Homo sapiens: one gene and its partners. The protein of the gene in region 3 purifies or fractionates together with the protein of the main gene of each other region. This does not show direct contact. Each region holds a gene or a part of one and is shown on either strand. Other genes may lie near its edges.

Region 1 (3,934 bases), on a different chromosome or scaffold from region 3:
CTTATACCACAATTTTCGAGGATGATTATTTCAGGTATGCTTTCTGAGAGACTCCACGTGGTTGAGAACTATGATCAATCTCACTGGTGAAACCAGATTCAAAATAAACTTATCCACAGGGTCCATGTCTGATTGGCAAGCTTCCAGGCTGCTGTGCATGTATGGGTAAGGTAGAGGCAAAGAATGAAATAAGTTGGCTCTACCAGCTCTCCGTGGAGCCTTGTTTCACAGTAGGAGGGGTGGATGCTCTCAAGAAACTCCACCATTCATACCAACAAACTTACTTTGCTTCATATGCTAACATTTCCTGTATGTTCCTATTTTCAAAGTTATTTTGAGTTCACAAGAGATTCACTGTGAATTTACGCAATAGCATAATAAATGAATAAACTACCTTTTTTTTTTTTTTGAGACGGAGTCTTGCTCTGTTGCCCAGGCTGGAGTGCAGTGGCGTGATCTCAGCAGGTTCACTGCAACCTCCGCCTCCCGGGTTCAAATGATTCTTCTGCCTCAGCCTCCCAAGTAGCTGGGACCACAGGCGCCCACCACCACACCCGGCTACTTTTTTGTATTTTTAGTAGAGACGGATTTCACCGTGTTAGCCAGGATGGTCTCGATCTCCTGACCTCGTGATCTGCCCGCCTCGGCCTGCTAAAGTGCTGGGATTACAGGTGTGAGCCACCATGCCCAGCCTAAACTACCTATCTTTCTATTTAAAGAATAGATAGAAGAGCTTGAATGTAATATTTATTTGGTGAATTTACATGTGAGGTCATTTACAAAAGAAAGATACAGACAGATGCAGCTTTCAGTGCAGTTTCAAACATTTTCACAACAGGCAATAGTCCATGAGAATTTGGAATGACAGTATAGAATGGCACATGCTTCAGTTTCCTTTGTGTTTCTCTACCCAACCCCAAGATGAAAGAAGGGAGAAGAGTAGAAGAAAATGTCAGTGTTAATGTAAATACAGCCATGCAAATAAAAACTTTTTTAAAGTCAGAGGTCATTCAGAGATGTAGAACATTTCTGTATTTGGGGGTTATCAGAAGGTGCATAATTTAAAAACAAAATGCAGCGGTCTCAAACTTCCCATCATCCAAATCATCTTGAATTATATTAACTGCACCAACTAATTAGTGACCTCCTCAATATTTTCCAAAGATTGACTTTGAAAGGGAGTCATTTCTAATAGTTTCTAAAAAAGATAGCATTTGTAGACAAATCTTTTTGGTTTCAACAGAATTAAGCACCCTTAAGGGGTGTAAAAATGCTCCTTTACTCCCAACAGTGTAAACCATAATTATAATTCGTTCTTAAATAAACCTCTCCCCATCCTGAGTATTTCAAAACAAAAGACCCCTGAAGAACACAACCCTTCCCTCACCAGAAAAATCTAGCATATAAGCAAAAGGATGGTCTATAAAAGTGGAAAATGGAAATAAATCGTAAAGTGATTTCTAAGTAAGGAGGTGGAGTAAAGCTTAAACACTGTCAGTACCCCTAGTGAAGACCTGGACCTGGGTAGTTAGTCCTTAGAGATCAAGGTTAGCTCACTACAAAAAGCACTCTACATGTCCTCAGCATCTTCAAAAATAAGTGGCTCAAAATTCCTTAAGCACATGTAGCCATAGTTAAAGCACTAAACTTGTTATTTCAGGAAATACTATGCTCTGGCTCCAAGTCTTACATCCTTTTTGACCCTTTAGCCACATGTCCTTCACGAGAAATTTTAAGCTATTTTAATACTCCCATATATCACACTTACTCTACCTTTATTTGGGTTTTACATACAAGCAATCTGCACTTTGATTTTAAAAAAGTTCTAAAATTTTTTAAAGGATGGGGTCTTGCTATATTGCCCAGGCTGGAGTGCAGTGGCTATTCGCAGGTGCAATCATCATGGCACATTACAGCCTCGAGCTCCTGGTCTCAAGCCTCTTGCCTCAGCCTCCCTAGTAGCTGAGACTATAAATAGTATATACAGTGCCACTGTACCCTCTATCCTACATTTTTAAAAGCTCACCATTAAATAGTACTAATTATTATAGAAAATAGTCACAGACAATTATAAACACACTACTGTTTCATCTTACCTCTTTGTCTGGTCCACTCCCCCATCAATACTCAGTCTTCCAACACATATATCAATTAGAATATTTTGCATCTGCATAATTTACTGCAAGAAAATCTGCTGTTGTGGACTTTAAGAAGAATGTACACTATCCATTAGAGTGGAAAGGGGCCAAGAGGATTAATAAGTGCCACCAAGTTTCTAAAACTGCAGAATCAGAGGCATTGTGCATGCTGACAATGGTTTAAAGGGTCTCTCAATTTTACTTTAATCCCCCATTTAACCTTTGTTTCTTTCAAAAAATCAACTGAAAGCGGTTAACTGAATATAAATCTATTTTACAGCATTTACTACGTTAATTTAAAAATCAACATGCTGTAAAATACTTACATTATTCACACATATATAGACGGAATCATCCAGAACATAATCAACTGCCAACCCCCCTTAAAAAAAAAATCAACAAATCAGTTTTTATTTGCATGGCCAATTATCATTTGTACTCTTTGCAACTTTATTTAAAAATCCCTTTAACATGTTCTAATCTTTTGTTGCACAGGGAATAAAAGCTGCAAGACTGCAAACTTCCTTCAACAGCCACACCCACAACACCTAGACATGAAACAGATGTAACAAATAACAACACCACAAACAGAAATACTGATTTCCACCATTCAACACAGTTCATGACAGTGTCTTTAGGGTTCAGTTGAAGAGGGGGTAAACTTTTAAAAAGAGGGTCAGTCTGCTTTCCCCCTGTTTTATAATGTTGGTGGTTTTAATCCGTATTTCTTTGCAACTTCTGTCTGGGCATGGGCGGCATCGCAAAGTGAATACAGATGGGCCATCTCCATTTCCGATTTGGCCAGGTTAATAGCTTTGTTGAACATGTCAATGGCTTTCTCCATGTTTCCTCTAAAAGAACAAAATTTTTAAGTCTCAGATTCAACAAGCACTTCACAATATTCAATGAAGGTTGTAAGTGATGGTACATGAAGTCTGACCACTAAGTTTCTTCACAATATTCAATGAAGGTTGTAAGTGATGCTACATGAAGTCTGACCACTAAGTTTCTACTATGATTCTAGTAAAATGCTTCTTTTAAAATAAACAAGAGTACCTACCACATTGAAAGCACTCAATGAATGTCAACTACTATTACAAATACTATGTGCTTACATTATATCCCTTGTATTCTGTGTTTACTGATAAGAACAGTCAGACTAGGGAAATTGATTGGCTTATTTAAAATCACAATTCCGTCTGGTTCCTAAATTTTACATGTTTCTACTGTTAACATGAGACTCCTTTAGAAAGCAGTGACATAATACCGGGACACTAATGACATGCAAGGGCCTTACCTTCACAGACTGATGTGGGCCCACCTCTTTCTGTTTCATCTCTTACCAGCACATCCCCAACCCCATGCATCTCTACTCTTCAGGCAGTCTATGTGAGTTCCTCACACCTACTCAATAAATACTCAGATTTATTGCCTCTGCCTGATTCTGGTCAAATCCACAGCTATCTAAGAACCAACTGTTTTAAGTAACTAGTATTAGCTACATATATATGCAATCCTACAAAGAATATTAAGTCCCTACTATATATATATATACCTGCATATACAGAGTCTAACTGGCATACATGTTAGTAAGGTACATTTTATTGGCATATGTGCCAGTTAGACTTTATATGCCAGTAAGAGGTACCACTAGGGTGACTATATTTAATCCCCCATTATAATATATGGCAACGTGATAGGCTTATTTTTAAAAAAAACTTTTTTCAAGAGTTCATGTTCTGGCATTAGGCCAACAGCTAGCAGATCTGCAAAATCCTAGGATAATCTGCAATTTC
Region 2 (2,826 bases), on a different chromosome or scaffold from region 3:
ATGAGGTGGATTGTCAGGGAGTCCCGCATCTTATATTTCAGTTCCATCTGGTGCTGCAGGGGCTGCATTCTCCCATGCTCCTTCTGTTCCTCTAAAAAATAAGCTACTGGCAAACAGAGCAGTGAACCCCAGTCCACAGCAATGCTTCTTGTCCCCCAAGCGAGATCTGCTCTGGGGCTAATTCATTAGGTTTAGCTTTTGTCTCACTTGATCGGAACTTGGGTGGAGATTCCAAGGGCTGGAAGGAAAGGTGGGGAGCTGTGCGGTTCTAAAGGGTGGGAACCACTCCTCAAAAGCGCAACTCTGAGAACACACTGAGAGAAAACAAGCTCAATCTTGGTAGTAGTACGGTCACCATTTACAGATTTCTTTTTACAGCTGCAAAAATATTCCATCAGGTTATCAGCCTCTGACTTCATTTCACTTTGGTAAGTAAGTAAAAATAAAGCTACTGTGAAATGCCATCAGCAATGTGAGCTCACGGCGGGTAGTCCACGTTTGTGAAAACAGACCCTATAGACTGCTCTGCATTTTAGTTTTCATGGAGGCTATTCTAAAGGAAACTTGTTATTTCATATATTTCATATATGGTTATACTTACATGCCAGCTAAACTACACATGCACACAGATTTTAAATAGCATCAGAAAATAAGGTTTTTGTTTACCTTAATACCATTTACCAGTTGCCTTAATGAATTCTGTAAAAATACCCTTGCAGGCTTCTGCTCAGTTACCCAAGAGGGCAACACAGCTGAAAAACCCAGCAGCTGAGGAAGGACCCAAAGAGACTCAGTATGACCCAAAGACTTACAGACACAGCCAAACAATCCCAAGGAGTACACAATATAAATGCTTTATTGCTAGCACAGAGGTTTCTTTTTAAGTAAATTAAAAGAAATAAATCTTCATTTTCACATTTTTTGTTGCAGTCCAAAGGTAACTAGTTGGTTAGTGGCTATGTCCACTTGGACACATGCTACAGGAGGGCAGCATTCACATGGAAGCACTCAGAAATACGGCATCTGTCAGGGCTCACGGCACTGGGCTGCTGAATGCACTGTCGTTTGTAAATAACAGCAAGTGGAGACTTTAAAACATCATGGATAGATAAGAGTTATAAATAGAAAACTGGTACGGTTAAGAAGCAGAAGATCGTTAAATACAGAAGGCTATATATATGTTGCCCATATTCCACATACTCTGGGTTATGTTTGGTACTTTTAAATAAATGATCTGCATTTAGGTTAGAGACTGGATTGGATTTGACAGCTGGAAAGATGGAAGAAGGGATGGAAGAAGGAAAGGAAGCTAACACTTCCCACATCAAACTGGTGGAGTCACTGGAAAGCAGAAGAGGAGTATGTGGATGGGAAGAAAGGGAGGCGGGCCTGCTTTACTCCCTGCAAGCTGTAGGCCATGGCCTGCCCAGTGAGGGGCAAGAATGGGGTGTGACAGAGGAGCTCAGTGGAGCACGGCAGTCCTGGCACAATGGAACTTGGCAAATGGAAAAGGAAACCCCTAGGCTTGGCCAGATTTTCCAAGGTCACTGCCAATAGATACAGGGCACATTATGATAGATGTACAGTGTGACAGACCAAAATCACACCTGCAGCAGTTATTGGTGTAGAGGTTCAGAAGGTACAGATTCCAACTACAGAAATAATTCATTTAATAATAATTGTTGCCCAATATTAGAAACTGAATGATGTCTGCAAGGCATCCAGCATTATCAAATTCTTGGGCCTACTCGGATTGTTTTTTGGTTGGTTCTAAGAAAAACTTTGGAAAAGATCTTATCTAGCTATGAAAAACAACCCACTCCTTGCCTTATTCCAGAATAACTGAGAAGGAATCTAATACACACACACCCCAAAACTGCAGCAAGCTCAGAAGCGGTGAACTGCACATGATGACTTCCAGTCTCTATTGTCCCAATCTTTTTTCATTCATGTTATTTATGGGTAAAAGAAAACCAGATTGGGTCAGGAATATCCCAGGTTCTTACTACATCTGTAGTGTACCAGCTCCTGGCATTTTCATTCTGGTCTGACTCTAGCTAAAACCATTTCATGTTTTGCTTTGAAGAAATGGATAACATGAAATGATAATTTGGCTTTACAACCTTGAAAAATTGTTCCCGGCCCAAACATCTGCCCCAGAATGAGCTCAGCTGACATCTCCTTGGAAGAGAGGGAGGGGTGGGTGAGCGAGGAGGGCCTGGAAGGAGGAAAATGAAGACAGGAGAAAGGTCACCTTTCCTTGAGAGGAAAGTTCTTTGTGACAAAGACATGAAATAATACAGCTCCCTTATTTCATCCTGTGCTCCAGAAGGAGATACTGGATGTGTCTGCTAGCTCCTCCTCCTCCCTTTATCCCACTTTCCCCAATATTTGGTATGATTAAGGTGGCCCCTTACAGAGTGCCAAGAAACTGTACCCAGCTGGTTTGCTTTAGTTGTGCAGTGACCTGCCTGGCCTACATGTTATCTTTTCAATCTTTAAGTAAGGACCGTGGCTCAACTTTGTATTCCTGAGAGCTGGGCCCTACAGAGAAAGCAGAGAGGGACAGACGTGCAGGCTGGGCTTCATCCTCCTTCTTGGCCTTCTTAGGAGTTCTTCTGGGGGATCTTTACTGTCACCGTCTTAACTTCTGAGTACTCCCGCAAGCCAAATTCTCCCCTGAAACACAGAAATGGGCCGGGTCAGATACCAGAAGTCCAGGGAGCTGCATGTGAGTGCAGCGGGAGTCCTGGGGAGGTGCAGTTTATCACCTGCGAACAGCAAGTCCTGGGATGTTCATGTAAAAATTCCTCACGTATGCGCAGC
Region 3 (3,934 bases):
AATTATCAGACCAGGAATTTTAAATAACTATGGTTAAAATTAATTAATTAATTAATTACAACGATGGTTAATATTCTAAGGACTCTGAAGGGAAAAGTGGACAACAGACAAGAACAGACAAATAACATAAGCAGTGATGGAAAATCTTTTTTTTTTTGAGACGGAGTCTTGCTCTGCCACCAGGCTGGAGTACAATGGCACGATCTCGGCTCACTTCAACCTCTGCCTCCCGTGTTCAAGTGGTTCTCCTGCCTCAGCCTCCCAAGTAGCTGAGACTACAGGCGTGCACCACCATGCCCAGCTATTTTTTGTATTTTTAGTAGAGATGGGGTTTCACCATGTTAGCCAGGATGGTCTCGATCTCCTGACCTCGTGATCCGCCCACCTCGGCCTCCCAAAGTGCTGGGATTACAGGCGTGAGCCACCACGTCCAGCCGGAAACTCTTAAGAAAGAATCAAAAGGAAATGTTGGAAATCAAAAATACTGTAACAAAGATGAAGAAAGTCTTGGATGGACTCATCAGTAGACTGGACATGGCCAGGGAAAGAATCAGTGAGCCTGAACACGTGTCAGTAGAAATTGTCCAAATGCAAAAGGCCCATCCATGGCAGACTGGATAAAGAAAATGTGGTATATGTACACCATGGAATACTATGCAGCCACAAAAAAGAACGAGATCACGTCCTTTGCAGGGACATGGATGAAGATGGAGGCCATTATCCTTAGCAAACTAATGCAGGAACAGAAAACCAAATATCACATTTATAAGTAAGAAAACCAAATATCTCACTTAAAAGTGGGAGCTAAATGATAAGAACACATGGACACAAAAACGGGAGCAACAGACCCCACTGGGGCTCACTTGAGGGTGAAGGGTGGGAGGAGGGAGAGGATCAGAAAAAATAACTAATGGGTACTAAACTTAGTAGCTGGGTGATGAAACAATCTGTACAACCCCAGTGACACAAGTTTACCTATGTAACAAACCTGCACGTGTACCCCTGAATCTAAAGTAAAAGTTAAAACAAAAAAAAGAAACAAATAATATTAATGCAATTATACTAATAGAAGGGCTTGGACTCAGATCCTCCATACACAAATTCTGTCTCTCATTGAGAAACACTGAGTCTGTGGTGGTAGGGATGGTGTGGGAATGTTGGTCTTCCTAGATCATTGGAATTACTATTTGGGGATGCATACCATCTGATTCTGTTAGTCGTTACCCATTTCCACCTATCCCATATCTTACAGAAGAATCATCTCAAGTACTAACTGCTTTATATCCCTTAAAACATTTCTAGTTGGGGCCAGGCGCAGTGGCTCACACCTGTAATCCCAACACTTTGGGAGGCCGAGGCGGTTGGATCACCTGAGGTCGGGAGTTTGAGACCAGCCTGACCAAGACGGTGAAACCCCATCTCTACTAAAAATACAAAAATTAGCCGGGCGCAGTGGCAGGTGCCCGTTATCTCAGCAATTCGGGAGGCTGAGGCAGGAGAATCGCTTGTACCTGGGCAGCAGAGGTTGCAGTGAGCCGAGATCACGCCACTGCACTCAAGCCTGGGTGACAGAGTGAGACTCTGTCAAAAAAAAAAAACAAAACTTTCTAGTCGGCCAGGCATGGTAGCTCACATCTGTAATCTCAGCACTTTGGAGGCCAAGGCCGGTGGACCACCTGAGGTCAAAAGTTTGAGACCAGCCTGGCCAACATGGTGAAACCTCATTTTGTATTTTTTTTTCTACCAAAAAATAGAAAAATTAGCCAGGTGTGGTGGTGCACACCTGCAGTCCCAGCTACTGGGGAGGCTGATGTGGGAGGAATGCTTGAGCCCAGGAGGCGGAGGCTGCAGTGAGCCAAGATCAAGCCACTGCACTCCAGCCTGGGTGACAGAGTAAGACCCTGTCTCAAAAAAAAAAAAAAAAAAAAAAAAGGACTTTCTTGGACAAACAAAACAGGAAATTTGTCACTGGCAGACCTGACTTACAAGATGTTAAAAGAAGTTCTTCTGGTCAGGTGGGATGGTTCACACCTATAATCCCAGCACTTTGGCAGGCCAAGGCAGGAGCATCGCTTGAGCCCAGGAGTTTGAGACCAGTCTGGGCAACAGAGTGAGACCCTGTCTCTATAAAAATTAAAAAAGAAAAAAACATAGCCAGGCGTGGTTGCATGTGCCTGTGGTCCCAGCTACTTGGGAGGCTGAGGTGCGGGGACTGCTTGAGTCTGGGAGGCTAAGGCTAAGCCTGCAGTGAACTGTGATCGTGCCACTGCACTCCAGCCTGCACGACAGAGTGAGACCCTGTCTGGGAAAAAACACTAACAAACAAACAAATAAAAATCTTTATTTCTCTTATTCTGAACTGTTAACAGTTAACAAACAGATACGTTTGTTTAAAACAATAGTAGCAACAATGTATTTGGTGATTACAGTTTATGGATCAGAGAAATCCATGACAGCAGTAATATCAAGGACAGGAGGGGAGAATTGGGAGGACTCCATTCTAAGGTACTTGCACACTCCATGCAGTGGTATAGTGTTATTTGAAAGTGGATTTGGATTAGTCATAAATGTACATTGCAGACTCCTGGGCAACCACTAAAAAGGTTTTCAAAAGAAGTATAATTGATATGCTAAGAGAGGAGAGAAAATGGAGTCATACAAAAAAAGCTGACGCTTTTAAATGTTTGCCTGAAAGCTTCAGGGAGTCATTGAAAGACTTTAAGAAGAAGAGTGACAAGATCAGATATGTAGTTTACTAAGAACAAACTGGGTAGTCATGAGAATAAACAGGATGTGGATGGACCTCACGGGATGCAGGGAGACCAGCTGGACGAGAACCCCAGTAATCCAGGCAAGAAGAGGTAGGGCTCAAATGAACCCACGTGCACTCAGAGGAGAGACCAACAGGAGAGAATCTTTCAAAGAAGCGGAATGTTAAGGTCTGCTAAGCAATAGGTATAAGAGGAACATTTTATCAGTCAAGGTTCAACCAGAGAAGCAGAATCAGTAGATTACAGACAGACAGACAGGTAGATACCAAAACATAACATGGGGCAACATGGAGTTCCTCTAACTCCTGAGCTCAAGCAATCTGCCTGCCTTGGCCTCCCAAAGTGCCAGGATTACAGGTGTGTGCCACTGCACCTGGCTATGACACACACATATACATATTTTATATATTTCTAAAATATATTTGTATACTATAATATATATTTTCTAAATATATAAATTATATAACTATATAAATATATAATTTTTTAAATTTATAGATATAGCAACATATATTTATAATATATAAATTTATATATACATTTATTTATATAGACATGAATTACGTTTAAATATAACATATAAAAATAATATATAAACATAAATAATTCATATAGCTATATAAAATCATATATAAATATATAACTTTATATGTTATAAATATATGTTGATCTATCTATATAGATTTTATAATTTTTTCTTCTTTTTTTAGGCAGGGTCTCAGCTGGTTGCCCAGGGTAGAGTGGAGTGGTGCAATCATAGCTCACTGTAATCTCAAACTCCTGGGCTCAAGGAATCCTCCCATCTCATCCTCCCTAAGTGCTGGGATTACAGGCATGCACCACTCCTGGCCTAAATATATATAATGCTGACGTAATATAATATTGATAAAATATAGAAATTGATTTATCACAAGGAATTAGCGAATTGGCTCACATAACTGTGGCTGTTGGCTAGGCAATCCTGAAGTCAGCAGGGCAGGCGGCCAGCAACAGACCATCCCAGGGGAGAGGGAGCAACGCGGGTAATGGCTCAGAGTCCAGAACCTCAGAGGGGGTTCAGGGGTGTTCTAGCCCTCCTTTAAAGGGCTTCCACCTGATTAGGTCAGGCCACCCAGGATAATCTCCCTTTTGATTAACTTAAAGCCAAACAATTGAGGAATTTA
Region 4 (3,934 bases), on a different chromosome or scaffold from region 3:
CCCAGCACTTTGGGAGGCCAAGGTGGGCGGATCACAAGGTCAGGAGTTTGAGACCATCCTGGCCAACATGGTGAAACCTCATCTCTACTAAAACACAAAAAATTAGCCAGGCGTGGTGGTGCACACCTGTAGTCCCAGCTACTCGGGAGGCAGAGGCAGGGGAATCCCTTGAACCCGGGAGGCAGAGATTGCGGTGAGCCGAGATTGTGCCACTGCACTCCAGGCTGGGCGACAGAGAGAGACTCTGTCTCAAAAAAAAAAAAAAAAAAAAAAATTGTTAGTTCATTCAACAAATATTTACAGAATAGGAAAACATAAAAGACTCGTACTAAAAGAGCTCATATTCTGTGCATTAAATAAAAATAAACTCAAAAGCCAAGAAGCATATATGAAGGCAATGCTTAGCATATTAAGCATTTGTCAACACAATCATGCAGGTAATTAAGACAATACCAGCCCTGCTCTGGCGCGTTTCTATCTAAATAAAGTACTGCTAGAGAACACTTCGCTAATTCATTTCCATGGCATAGAAACCTCAATAATTAAACATTAGAAATTGTTCCAAGTCTATAATCCCTTGAAAATAAAATGTCTATCACTTGCTTTATAACTAAAGAAATCTGAGGTGAAACTCTTTTAGAGAATAAAGGAATTCAGACATTGAATATAAGTGGTCAATCACCTATGACAAAAAAAAATTATAAAGCACTTTAGATATCTGAACAAACAGCCCATACCTTACCAAAATGAAGTACCAAACCATAAAATCATTCCTGGACTTAGAAACATTCCCCAAAATATTATTGACAATGAACTAAAAATGAATCCAAATAGTTCCCTTTGACTGATACACACACACACACACACACACACACACACACACACACACAGACACACACACGGAAGGGGAAGGCGGGGAATGAGAGAAATGCTAAGTATTGTGACCCAAATGCTTTTTGAAAAGATATGTGAGGGTCATTTAGAAAACCTAACTGCAGAATTTACAAGAATATCTATATAATTTAATAATACTTTAAAGGGGGGCAGGAGTACAGATGAGAGGAAAGAAAAATGACTCCAATTAAGGATAAAGTGAGTATAGTTTTAGTTGAGCCCCAAATGCACCATGATTTCACATCAATTTATTAAACAGTAAGCTCCATATGCTAGTCCACCAAGGGAAAATGTTCTTTTATTATTTTTAAAAGCTGTAAGTTGCACTGAGTCATCCACATTCTCTCCACCAGTAATCCTTATCACTAACAAATTAGAGTTTTAAGTATAGTTGTATAGTATTTTCATGAAGAAATTCAAGAGGCCCAAATAGAGACCTAACCTATAATCATTAGACCTTAATCATTAAACCTTTTTTCTCACCCCAATCACCACTCTCCAAATAGAAAGTATAATAAAGAGATGTAAACAGAAACTCCCAATTAATATTTTGGGAAATTTAATACCTAGACAAATCTCAATCTCCTGATATAATCTTTGAACTCCTACTTCATACTTTCCATCAGAATTCCAAATGAAATGAAAATATCAATAAAAATAAAGCCATGTGAGAACAAAAAGTCAGGTATATGATGATATAATCCTGGTAACAGAGAATTTCCTAAACATGACCACTAAGCCAGAAATCACTTTACAGTGAAACGATTGATAATTGTGACTATATAAAACTCATACTATTCATTAAATATTTAAAAAGATAAAGCACATGAATACTGTAATTTTTAAATACATATAAGTTAAGATATATAAACCAAAATGTTAATTTAAACAGTGATTATCTCTAAGGAAGGAGATTGTAGATAAGTGCTATTAGCATTTATACCCTTCTATGCTCCCTAAATTTTCTACAACGAGAGCATATTATTTTTATAATTTAAAAAATGACAAATCTTTCTTCACTTTAAAAAATAAAATCTATGTTTCCCTCTCAGCCATAGTTGGTTGTCACTTCCCTCAGGTACAGATAAAACTAAAAAGAAATGACTTTTTTTCCAGAGACAGGGTCTCATTCTATCACCCAGGCTAAAGTGCAGCAGCACCATCACAGCTCACTCAGTCTCAAACTCCTGGACTCAAGCCATCCTCCTGCCTCAGCCTCCTGGGCAGCTAGGATCACAAGTTTGTGCCACCATGCCTGGCTAATTTTTTTATTTCTGTAGAGGCGACAAATCTCACCATGTTGCCCAGGCTGGTCTCAAACTTCTAGCCTCAAGCAATCCTCCCAACTCAGCCTCCCAAAGCACTGGTATTACAGGCATGAACCACTGTGCCCAGCCAAGAAATGACTTTTGAATTGAGCATGGGTTAAACAATAGAACCAGGACTGATGATCCGGTGTAGCTACTAAGGTGGTAGAAAAGCAAATTTAAAAGTCCAACTGTCAGTAAACTGACTTTTAACAAAGGTGCCAAAGCAATCCAATGAGAAAACTTAATTTTTTTAAAATGGTGCAGGATAGTCTGGATAACTGGATAATTATGTGGAGAAAAAAAATTAACTTCAACCCCTAACTCACACCACACATTAAATTTAGCTTAAAATGTATCCTAGACCTAAATGTAAAAGTCAACCATAAAGCTTTTGGAAAAAAGCAAAGGAGAATATCTTCACGACATGAGGATGGCGACAATTACTTGGGCAGAAAAGCAACAACCATTAAAAATTTTTATTAAAAAAAGAGATATGGGGCCAGGCATGGCGGCTTGTGCCTGTAATCCCAGCACTTTGGGAGGCCAAGGCGGGTGGATCACTTGAGGTCAGGAGTTGGAGACCAGCCTGGCCAACATGGTGAAACCCTGTCTCTACTATAAAAATACAATAATTAGCCGGGTGTGGTGGTGCATGCCTGTAATCCTAACTAATCAGGAGGCTGAGGAGGGAGAATCACTTAAACCCATGAGGTGGAGGTTACAGTGAACCGAGATTGTGCCACTGCACTCCAGCCTGGGCAACTCAGCAAGACTCTACCTCAGAAAAAAAAAAAAAGAGACAGAGAGAGAGATACACCATAAGCTAGGAAAAAACATTCACAAAACATTTATTTGACAAAGAGTGTTCTCTTTATATACAAAAGAACTTCTAAGATTCAATAATAAATACAAATAAATGACCCAATGTTTTTTAATGGGCAAAAATGGAGGTATGTTGCTTCAAACAGATGCTTCACAAAGGAAAATATATAAATGGCCCGTAAGTGCAAGAAAAAGTACATCATTCATCATGAGGGAAATGCAAATCATGCAAATCGAAATCACATTTTAAAGAGCAGTGTCGGGGAAGATGTGGAGCAACTGGAACTCTCATATACTGTTGGTGGGAGTATAAAATGGTATAACTACTTCATAAAAAGATCTGGCAGTTTCTTTTTTTTTTTTTGAGACAGAGTCTCACTCTTGTTGCCCAGGCTGGAGTGCAATGACCCAGTCTCAGCTCACTGCAACCTCCCACCTCCTGGGTTCAGGTGATTCTCTTGCCTCAGCCTCCCAAGCAGCTGGGATTACAGGTGCGTGCCACCACGCCTGGCTAATTTTTTTTTTCTTTTAATTTTTAGTAGAGATGGGGTTTCACCATGTTGATCAGGCTGGTCTCGAACTCCTGACCTCAAATGATCCACCCACCTCAGCCTCCCAAAGTGCTGAGATTACAGGCATGAGCCACCATGCCTGGCCATCAGTTTCTTAAAAAGTAAACACATATCTGCCCTATGAGTTAGCAATTCCACTACAAGGTATTTAATTTACCCAAAAGAAATGAAAACTTTCATAACAACTGTATTAAGAGCCAAAGTAGGCTGGGTGCAGTGGCTCAGGCCTCTAATCCAACGTTTTCAGGGGCTGAGGCTGGAGGATCACTTGAGGCCAGGAGTTTGAGACCAGCCTGGACAACACAGCAAGACCCCATTTCTGCAAAAATAAAATAA

What was found.
Region 1: the proteins of SFXN2 (region 3) and TOMM70 fractionate together in Homo sapiens (co-fractionation; one large-scale study listed by BioGRID). This does not show direct contact.
Region 2: the proteins of SFXN2 (region 3) and ALDH1A2 purify together in Homo sapiens (affinity purification with mass spectrometry; one large-scale study listed by BioGRID and IntAct). This does not show direct contact.
Region 4: the proteins of SFXN2 (region 3) and ROCK2 purify together in Homo sapiens (affinity purification with mass spectrometry; one large-scale study listed by BioGRID and IntAct). This does not show direct contact.

Annotation. Positions count from the first base shown.
Region 1 is NC_000003.12:100,362,729-100,366,662, forward strand, and holds the end of TOMM70 (mitochondrial import receptor subunit TOM70), read right to left. Parts: intron 2,990-3,934; coding exon 2,836-2,989; 3' UTR 703-2,835; downstream 1-702. UniProt on the Homo sapiens protein: Acts as a receptor of the preprotein translocase complex of the outer mitochondrial membrane (TOM complex). Recognizes and mediates the translocation of mitochondrial preproteins from the cytosol into the mitochondria in a chaperone dependent manner.
Region 2 is NC_000015.10:57,952,591-57,955,416, forward strand, and holds the end of ALDH1A2 (retinal dehydrogenase 2), read right to left. Parts: intron 2,680-2,826; coding exon 2,607-2,679; 3' UTR 839-2,606; downstream 1-838. UniProt on the Homo sapiens protein: Catalyzes the NAD-dependent oxidation of aldehyde substrates, such as all-trans-retinal and all-trans-13,14-dihydroretinal, to their corresponding carboxylic acids, all-trans-retinoate and all-trans-13,14-dihydroretinoate, respectively.
Region 3 is NC_000010.11:102,720,924-102,724,857, reverse strand, and holds part of SFXN2 (sideroflexin-2), read right to left. Parts: intron 1-3,934. UniProt on the Homo sapiens protein: Mitochondrial amino-acid transporter that mediates transport of serine into mitochondria. Involved in mitochondrial iron homeostasis by regulating heme biosynthesis.
Region 4 is NC_000002.12:11,334,260-11,338,193, forward strand, and holds part of ROCK2 (rho-associated protein kinase 2), read right to left. Parts: intron 1-3,934. UniProt on the Homo sapiens protein: Protein kinase which is a key regulator of actin cytoskeleton and cell polarity.